Linked DNA regions of Homo sapiens: all the other regions are linked to region 1. The links come from fine-mapping of genetic effects on gene expression. A gene starts in region 1. Each other region holds a variant in brackets. All regions are shown on one strand. Distances are between the middles of the regions. Region 1 holds the start of NME2 (NME/NM23 nucleoside diphosphate kinase 2). Region 2 overlaps SGCA (sarcoglycan alpha). Region 3 holds the start of TMEM92 (transmembrane protein 92).

The links.
Region 2: its variant is fine-mapped to the expression of NME2 in spinal cord (GTEx, PIP 0.98).
Region 3: its variant is fine-mapped to the expression of NME2 in minor salivary gland (GTEx, PIP 0.97).

Annotation. Positions count from the first base shown.
Region 1 is chr17:51,165,154-51,167,653 of GRCh38, forward strand. It overlaps NME2 (NME/NM23 nucleoside diphosphate kinase 2), which reads left to right and starts at 1,258. Exons shown (of 5, transcript NM_002512.4): 1 at 1,258-1,344; 2 at 1,674-1,803. The coding sequence starts at 1,678. It overlaps NME1-NME2 (NME1-NME2 readthrough), which reads left to right. Exons shown (of 9, transcript NR_037149.2): 6 at 1,674-1,803. RefSeq lists silencers at 1,099-1,728, 1,989-2,188 and an enhancer at 1,211-1,819.
Region 2 is chr17:50,174,682-50,177,181 of GRCh38, forward strand. It overlaps SGCA (sarcoglycan alpha), which reads left to right. Exons shown (of 10, transcript NM_000023.4): 9 at 576-768; 10 at 1,031-1,247. The coding sequence ends at 756. Among named protein-coding and RNA genes, the nearest start is that of SGCA, 9.9 kb to the left of the region's middle. RefSeq lists enhancers at 172-773, 1,067-1,361. The variant C/T (reference allele first, on the strand shown) is at 1,110.
Region 3 is chr17:50,272,581-50,275,080 of GRCh38, forward strand. It overlaps TMEM92 (transmembrane protein 92), which reads left to right and starts at 1,886. Exons shown (of 5, transcript NM_153229.3): 1 at 1,886-1,990. The coding sequence starts at 1,922. RefSeq lists silencers at 491-830, 1,968-2,262. The variant G/T (reference allele first, on the strand shown) is at 1,077.

The DNA of each region.
Region 1 (2,500 bases):
TTCACAGTTGACATTTGGTAATCCAAATGAGAGTGTGTTTCAGATCGAAGCCAAAAAATAACAGTGCCCCCAGATGAGGGCACATGACAGTCATTGTCAATGTGTGGTGGGCTAATGCTCTGTAACTAGAAGTTTGGAAAGCCGATAAGGTATAACAGAGGCCAGATTGTCATCCATCTGGCCAGTGACAGGTGATCAGCGCAGTGCTAGGGGCACTCGGGTGATGGCATGATTGCTGTGGTCAGCTCAGAGTCCTGAGGGGAAGCAAGCGGGCTCTCACCATCTCAGGGCAGTACCACTGCTGTGCGGCTGTCAGTCAGTGCTGCAGGCGCCGAGAGGAGGGGCTTGTGACCGCCCCAGGGAAGCTGGGCATCACCAAAGGGAGCTTGTTTGCCAGGGACACTGCAAGTAGGAAGTGTCTACAGGTCGATGACAGGCCTAATCTCTATGACAGGGTCTAGACTTTCCTCAGGGTCCAGGGGCGCACCTCAGGGTGAACTGGAAAACTCGACCGCACTTTAGTGCCAGGTGGGCAGGGATCCCCATGTCAGGGTGGGAGTGGGGCGGCTGATTGGGGCTGGAAATGTAGGTGGGGAGGCGGCAGCCAGGGAGCAGGGCATCCTGCGAGAAGAGCATCCCGCTAAGGAGTCTGAACGCCATCCTGTAGGCGGGGGAGTCATCAAGGCAGGGCAGAGGCAGGACCAGATGGCCGTTTGAGGTGCTGAGCAAAGCTCCCGGTTTGCGCGGAGAGGTGAGATCGAGGCCCCTTGGGAGGCCGAGGCTTAACCAGGGCTCAAGCAGAGGGGAGGGAAGGCTGGATTTCAGAGGTAGGGAGGATAAGGACCGTGGGTGCACGACGGGGAGGGAGAGCCAAGTCAAGGTTAATGCCGGTGCTCGGGCGGATGGTGAAAGCAGCAGATGGCCTTGACCGGGGTAGAGAACTCGAGCACAGGAGCAGGTTCTGTGTGTGTGTGTGTGTGTGTGTGTGTGTAGGAGCTTTTGGGGTCACGGGAAGTACTGAGAGGTGAGGAGTGGGATTTGGGACGTGCGTAGTTGAACTCATAGGACGTCCAGGTGGAGAAGGAATCACTTCCTGTCTCTGGATCCGTCTCGATCTCTGCCTGGCGAGGGCGCGCCCCGGCTGGGCGTGGACACTGTTCTCCGGCCGCGTCGGGCCGGGCGGGTGGGGCGTTCCTGCGGGTTGGGCGGCTGGGCCCTCCGGGGTGTGGCCACCCCGCGCTCCGCCCTGCGCCCCTCCTCCGCCGCCGGCTCCCGGGTGTGGTGGTCGCACCAGCTCTCTGCTCTCCCAGCGCAGCGCCGCCGCCCGGCCCCTCCAGCTTCCCGGTAAGGCGGTGGGGGCGCATCCCCTGGCGACTCCTCCCGTTCCCTCTTCCGCTTGCGCTGCCGCAGGTGGGCCCGGTCTGTGGGCGCCCCCCGATTTCCCGCAGGTCCCGCGCGGCGTCGGAGCGGGAGATTCCCTTGCAGCTTGCGCCCCGCGGGCCTTCGGGCTCCGCAGAGGGACGCCGGCCCTGCGCGGGGCGGAAGCGGCCGGGAAGCCACGTGTCCCCGCGGCCGCGCGTGGTGGGGGAGGAGGGACCGGCGGCGCCCACGTGGCCTCCGCGGGCCCCGCCAGAGCCTGCGCCCGGGCCCTGACCGCACCTCTCGCCCCGCAGGACCATGGCCAACCTGGAGCGCACCTTCATCGCCATCAAGCCGGACGGCGTGCAGCGCGGCCTGGTGGGCGAGATCATCAAGCGCTTCGAGCAGAAGGGATTCCGCCTCGTGGCCATGAAGTTCCTCCGGGTAACTCGCCCCCGTCTCCCCTTCCCCGCTGCAGCCGGCTCGCGGGTGTTTTTCCCTCCCGGCGGCGGTTTGTCCGCGTCTGCTTTCCGAGTTCATTTCGCTGCCGCGAAATCCCTTTGCCCTCTGCCCCCGCCCACGGCGGCTTGGGCCCGCCGACCCTTTCCCGGGGTGGTGGGGACAGACGCCCTTGGGAAGGTGAAGCGCTGGTAGCGTGACTCGCCCTCCGGGTTTGGGTTCCTTCCCGCGGGCCGCTACCTGCCCACCCGCCGCAGGGGGGCAGCAGGGAGCGGAAAAACCCCGGGCCCCAGACCCCCTGCGCCTGCCCACTCGGGTCCACCTAGGCACAGAATGGAGGCTTGGAATCTCCTTTGCTTTAGTCTGAAACTCCGAGTTCCAGTGCGGTGCTCCTCCTTTAGCATAGGGTAGTGAGTGTATTTTCCACATTAAATTTGGGGCACAGATCTGAATCCCTACACTTACGGGTAAGAATCTAAGTACTGAAATTCAACCAGGCTCATCGGTGAAGAGAATGTTCTCAGTTATTATCTGAAATATTTAAAAGGGCATTGTGAGTAGCCCAGGGGAGTTTAACATGACCTCTGCCAGGCAGATGACCTGACATATGTACTTCAGTTGCAGCCAAAATTTAATTCCCTAAATCTAGATCCTCAAACCACCTACTTTTTAGGCTTACAAA
Region 2 (2,500 bases), 990 kb before region 1:
AGCAAACTAAGGCATGGAGTGGTTAAGCAACTTGCCCAAGACACACAGCCTTGAACCCAGGCTGTCTACACCCACAGCCTATGTCTTGACCACTGGGCACTGAGCAGGCACCATAGAGCTTTCTTTTTTTTGTTTTTTTTCTTCTTTTTTTTACTTTGAGATGGAGTCTCTTGCGATCTCAGCTCACTGCAACCTCCGCCTCCCAGGTTCAAGTGAATCTCCTGCCTCAGCCTCCTGAGTAGCTGGGATTACAGGTGCCCACCACCACACCTGGCTAATTTTTATTTTTATTTTTTGTAGAAACAGGGTTTCACCGTGTTGGCCAGGCTGGTCTCGAACTCCTGACCTCAAGTGATCTGCCTGCCTTGGCCTCCCAAAGTGCTGGGATTATAGGCATGAGCCACCACGCCCGGCCCCATAGAGCTTTCTGTTTGTTTTCTGCCCCTGCATCATGTGTCTGAGTCTCTCCCCACATAAGTGGTGGGGAGGACCGCAGGGTGGCTCAGAGGCAGTTCCAGGCTGTACTCCAGGGCAGCTGACTCCCAGAGCTGATGACTCCCCACCTGTGCCTCCAGCATCCAGATGGTCCACCACTGCACCATCCACGGGAACACAGAGGAGCTGCGGCAGATGGCGGCCAGCCGCGAGGTGCCCCGGCCACTCTCCACCCTGCCCATGTTCAATGTGCACACAGGTGAGCGGCTGCCTCCCCGCGTGGACAGCGCCCAGGTGCCCCTCATTCTGGACCAGCACTGACAGCCTAGCCAGGTAGGTCTGGTGGGTGATGCCAGCCTTATTTCTGGGAACAAGATGGCCTTTATCACAAGGCTGGGGCAAATGGTGGGGTCTGGGAGAGGTCAGGGGAAGAGGCACATAGACTTGTCTGCCCCTCTGAGGCCGCTGCTGGGGGTCCTCACCAGTGCCAGGGCTATGACCCCAATGCCAAGCACTCGCAGTTGGAGTGTCAGGGTGGGGAAGTCAGGAGAACCAGCATCTGGCCCTCTCAGCCCTCCACTCTCTCTTCCCACAGTGGTTCCAGGTCCAGCCCTGACTTCATCCTCCCTTCTCTGTCCACACCACGAGTGGCACATCCCACCTGCTGATTCCAG[C/T]TCCTGGCCCTCCTGGAACCCAGGCTCTAAACAAGCAGGGAGAGGGGGTGGGGTGGGGTGAGAGTGTGTGGAGTAAGGACATTCAGAATAAATATCTGCTGCTCTGCTCACCAATTGCTGCTGGCAGCCTCTCCCGTCCTCACTGGCTCTGTTTCCCTTTGTGCTTTCTGGGAGGCCCCATAGGCAGCCAGTGCCTGCCGGCCTGCCCTTTGGACTCTTGGCATTTTGCTGTTTTCTCAAATTCTCTGGAAGAAAGAGGGAAGGACCTGCTATCTGTAGCCCTCCCACGAACCTGGTAGTGAGGTATGCCTGGATCACTATCCCCATTTCACAGACAAGGAAACAGAGACCAAGGGAGAGTCAGTGACTTACCCAAGGCTACAGAACAAGCAAGTGGCAAAGCTTGAATTTGACCCTGGCACTTCTGCCTCCACCCTGCCTTCTACAGGGTTGAGGGGTTCTGGAAGCAGGAAATCCAGACCCTTACCTGTAGATTTCTTTGGCACCTCAAGATTCCCTGGAAGGAGAGTCCCTCTGTCTGTTGTGTTTGGAGAGAAGCCAATCTAGATATGGAGAGCGAGGCCGGGCGTGGTGGCTTACACCTGTAATCCCAGCACTTTGGGAGGCCAAAACAGGCAGATCACTTGAGGTCAGTAGTTCGAGACCAGCCTGGCCAACATAGTGAAACCCCATCTCTACTAAAAATACAAAAATTAGCCAGGCATGGTGGCACGTACCTGTAATCCCTGCTACTCGGGAGGCTGAGGCAGGAGAATCACTTGAACCCAGGAGGTGGAGTTGCAGTGAGCCGAGATCACACCACTGCATTCCAGCCTGGGTGACAGAGCAAAACTCTGTCTCAAAAAAAAAAAAAAAAAAAAAAAGATATGGAAAGAGGGAGGTTGGAATGCGGGTCCCGGAATGCCCTAGGCTCAAGGACTACCCCCCGCCTTGCTGAGCTCCTCCAGAGATGGGCAGGGGTGCAGAGGACACAGCACAGCCTGGGACCCTTGTTGGACTGAGTGGTGCTAGCACAGCTTGACCCCACACGAGCTCAGAAGAGCTCAGCTGGCCATGAGAAGGCCTGAGCTTGTTTTTCCCAGGTGGACACAACCAAATGGGGCCGATTCTGCCCCGATCACTGCCATCTGGCCATGTCCAGGCTCATATACTCCCACTCCCACGTGAGGACAGGCCAGGGACTCAGCCCGAGAGGGGCCCGGCTAAAAGAGGGATAGCTGGCAAGGCCCTCCCCTAGTGGCAACTCCGAGAGAACACAGACAAGGGCTGGCATCACCACTCCAGCCTCCTTCTCCTTTTCCTCTGCTGGGAGGCCCTGGCTCCCACATCCACACAACTAGCCCCTCACTGCAGGTTCTGTCTTTGCCCAA
Region 3 (2,500 bases), 890 kb before region 1:
TTCCCTTCTCCAAGCTCACAGTCACTTCAAATACAGAGGGGCCAGATCCCAATACCCCTCGGATCAGGAGACTAGAAGATTATCTTCTTAAGGGGCAAAAAGGGCTAGGAGGTAATGGGAAATAGAGACAGGGAAAGGGAGAGAGAGAGCAGGGAGACAGCATAAGAAACAGACCGAGAGACTGGGGGTGCAGGACCAAACCAGGGACAAGGAGAAGGGACCAGAGAAACCGAGAAAAACAGACGCCTCCGCCGAGGCAGACAGAGGTGAACAGAGAGAGGAGAAACAGACGGGAGAACAGAGGGAAAGGCTGGGAACTCGAGAGAAACTGGGTGCGGACAGATGGGAAGAAACCGAAACAGAAAAACAGAGGCTGGGAGAAACGGGGAGAGACACAGAGGGGTTAAATATAAGACAGAGAACATGACTGGGAGAGATGAGGGAGAAGGGTGAGAGGCAGAGAGCAAGGAAAGAGAAGAAACGCCCACGACGTCGGGGGTGTTTTTCAGGGGTCAAGACAGATTGGCGACACAGCAGGAGGCGCCCAAGGACATGACGTTGAGCCTCTCAGGGTCCCCCTTGGCCGGGCCAGGGAGCAGCGCCCCACGCTCCATCACCCCCTCTCCCCCTCCCGCGGTCCTGGCTGCACTGCTCCTGCCTCGCCCTCGCCCAGCGCCCCCAGCCCACAAGCCCCGGCCGCGCCCCTCCCGGCTCCCGGGGGCACCCGCGCTGGGCGACGCTGCCACCTGCCGGCCGCTCCCGGAAGCTCCGCGCCTGGAGTGCTGGAGGCGGCGGCCGCAGGGGGCTCAGAATCAGGCCCCTCCGCACTGGGGCGGCCTCCGCGGGGTCTTTCCAGGAATCTGGATGGGCCTGCTCGCCCGCGCCCCGGCGGGCCTGGCAGAGGACCAGCCCCAGCTGCGGACCCCGGGGCAGTCTAAACCCTGGGGCCTTGAGTTCCCGTTTTGTCAATGGGAGAAAATGCACCAACACCTCCTGTAGGATTTCAAGAGGGGAGGGGACACGAAGGTACCCACGTTGTGCTCCTGGTCTTCCTTCCTCGACCTGGAAATCTCAGG[G/T]CACTCTGAAATCAGCCAGGCTGCTCTGTCCCTCCCTTTTTGGTCAAAACACAATGGGGTGATATCCCCCAACCATAACCCCTCAAAATCTACCCTAGAACCTTCGCCTTCCCCTCCCTCAACCTCTGCCCCCATTTGACTTCTCACCAGACCCAGAGGTCCAGATAAGAAGGGGCTTCCACGTCCCCTTCCCACTCCCGCCGGTCCCGGCACCCCTCCCTGGAGTCTGGGGCACTTAGGAGTGGAGGAGTTGGGAGTTAGGAAGGCCCAGCTCAGCGGTGTGGAGTTGATCCCACCTCTTTTTAAATTTAGGTTATTTATTTATTTATTTATTTATTTAGAGATGGAGTCTCACTCCGTCGCCCAGGCTGGAGTGCACTGGCACGATCTCGGCTCACTGCAACCTCTGCTTCCCGGGTTCAAGCGATTCTCCTGCCTCAGGCTCCTGAGTAGTTGGGATTACAGGCACCCGCCACCACGCCCGGCTAAATTTTGTATTTCTAGTGGAGACGGGGGGTCTCACCATGTAGGCCAAGCTGGTCTCGAACTCCTGACCTGAAGTGATCCTCCCAAAGTGCTGGTATTACAGGCGTGAGCCACCGCGCCCGGGACCGCTTTTTTAAAAATCCGTTAATCTCTTCTACCTCCCAAATCCCAAAACCCAACCCAGACCTCTGCGCCTCCCTTCCTCCCTTCCTCCTCCCAGCCCCTCCCTGCCCCGAGTCCGCCTCTCCCGGTGCAGCTCCGCCCCCATCCCGAGGCGGGGCCCCATAGGTGGAGAGAAGTGGGAGAGGTCGCAGCCCCGCCTTCTCTACACAGGAAAGCTCAGTGGCCCCCAAGCCAGGATGTCCCAAGCTTGGGTCCCCGGCCTCGCGCCCACCTTGCTGTTCAGCCTGCTGGCTGGCCCCCAAAAGGTGAGACTGGGAGGTAAGGTTGTTGAACTTTTGGGCCCTACCCTTGTAGGTCAGGAGCCTGCTTCTGGAGCCTGGTCGCCACCTTCCAGAATCAGGATTTCCTCCTGACCACACACAGTTAGCTACTTCCTTTCTCTCTTTGCTGTGGAGGTGGAGGTGGGGGCAGCGGAGGAGGCTCTGGGAGAGGCTGGGTTCTCCCACCTCTGAGGGGGATCCTGTGGTGGGAAGTGGCCACCACCCACCACCTTATCTGACACCTAGCACGTCTCTGTGAATAGGGACTTTGGACCCCTTATTAGCCTCAGCTTATCCTTCCAGCTCCTTCCCGCCTGAGCTTTGGACACCTGGGCCAGCACTTAGCCCCAGCTCAGTTCCTCCAGTGCTGGGGGACCCTGGGATGTCCCCACCCTCTTTGGGACTGTGTCTCTGCTTGTTCCCTAGGGGAGAGAAGGCTCTTTTGTCCCCTTCTAGGGGTAAGTAATCCCAGCCTGTGGTGGGATTTGACCTGGC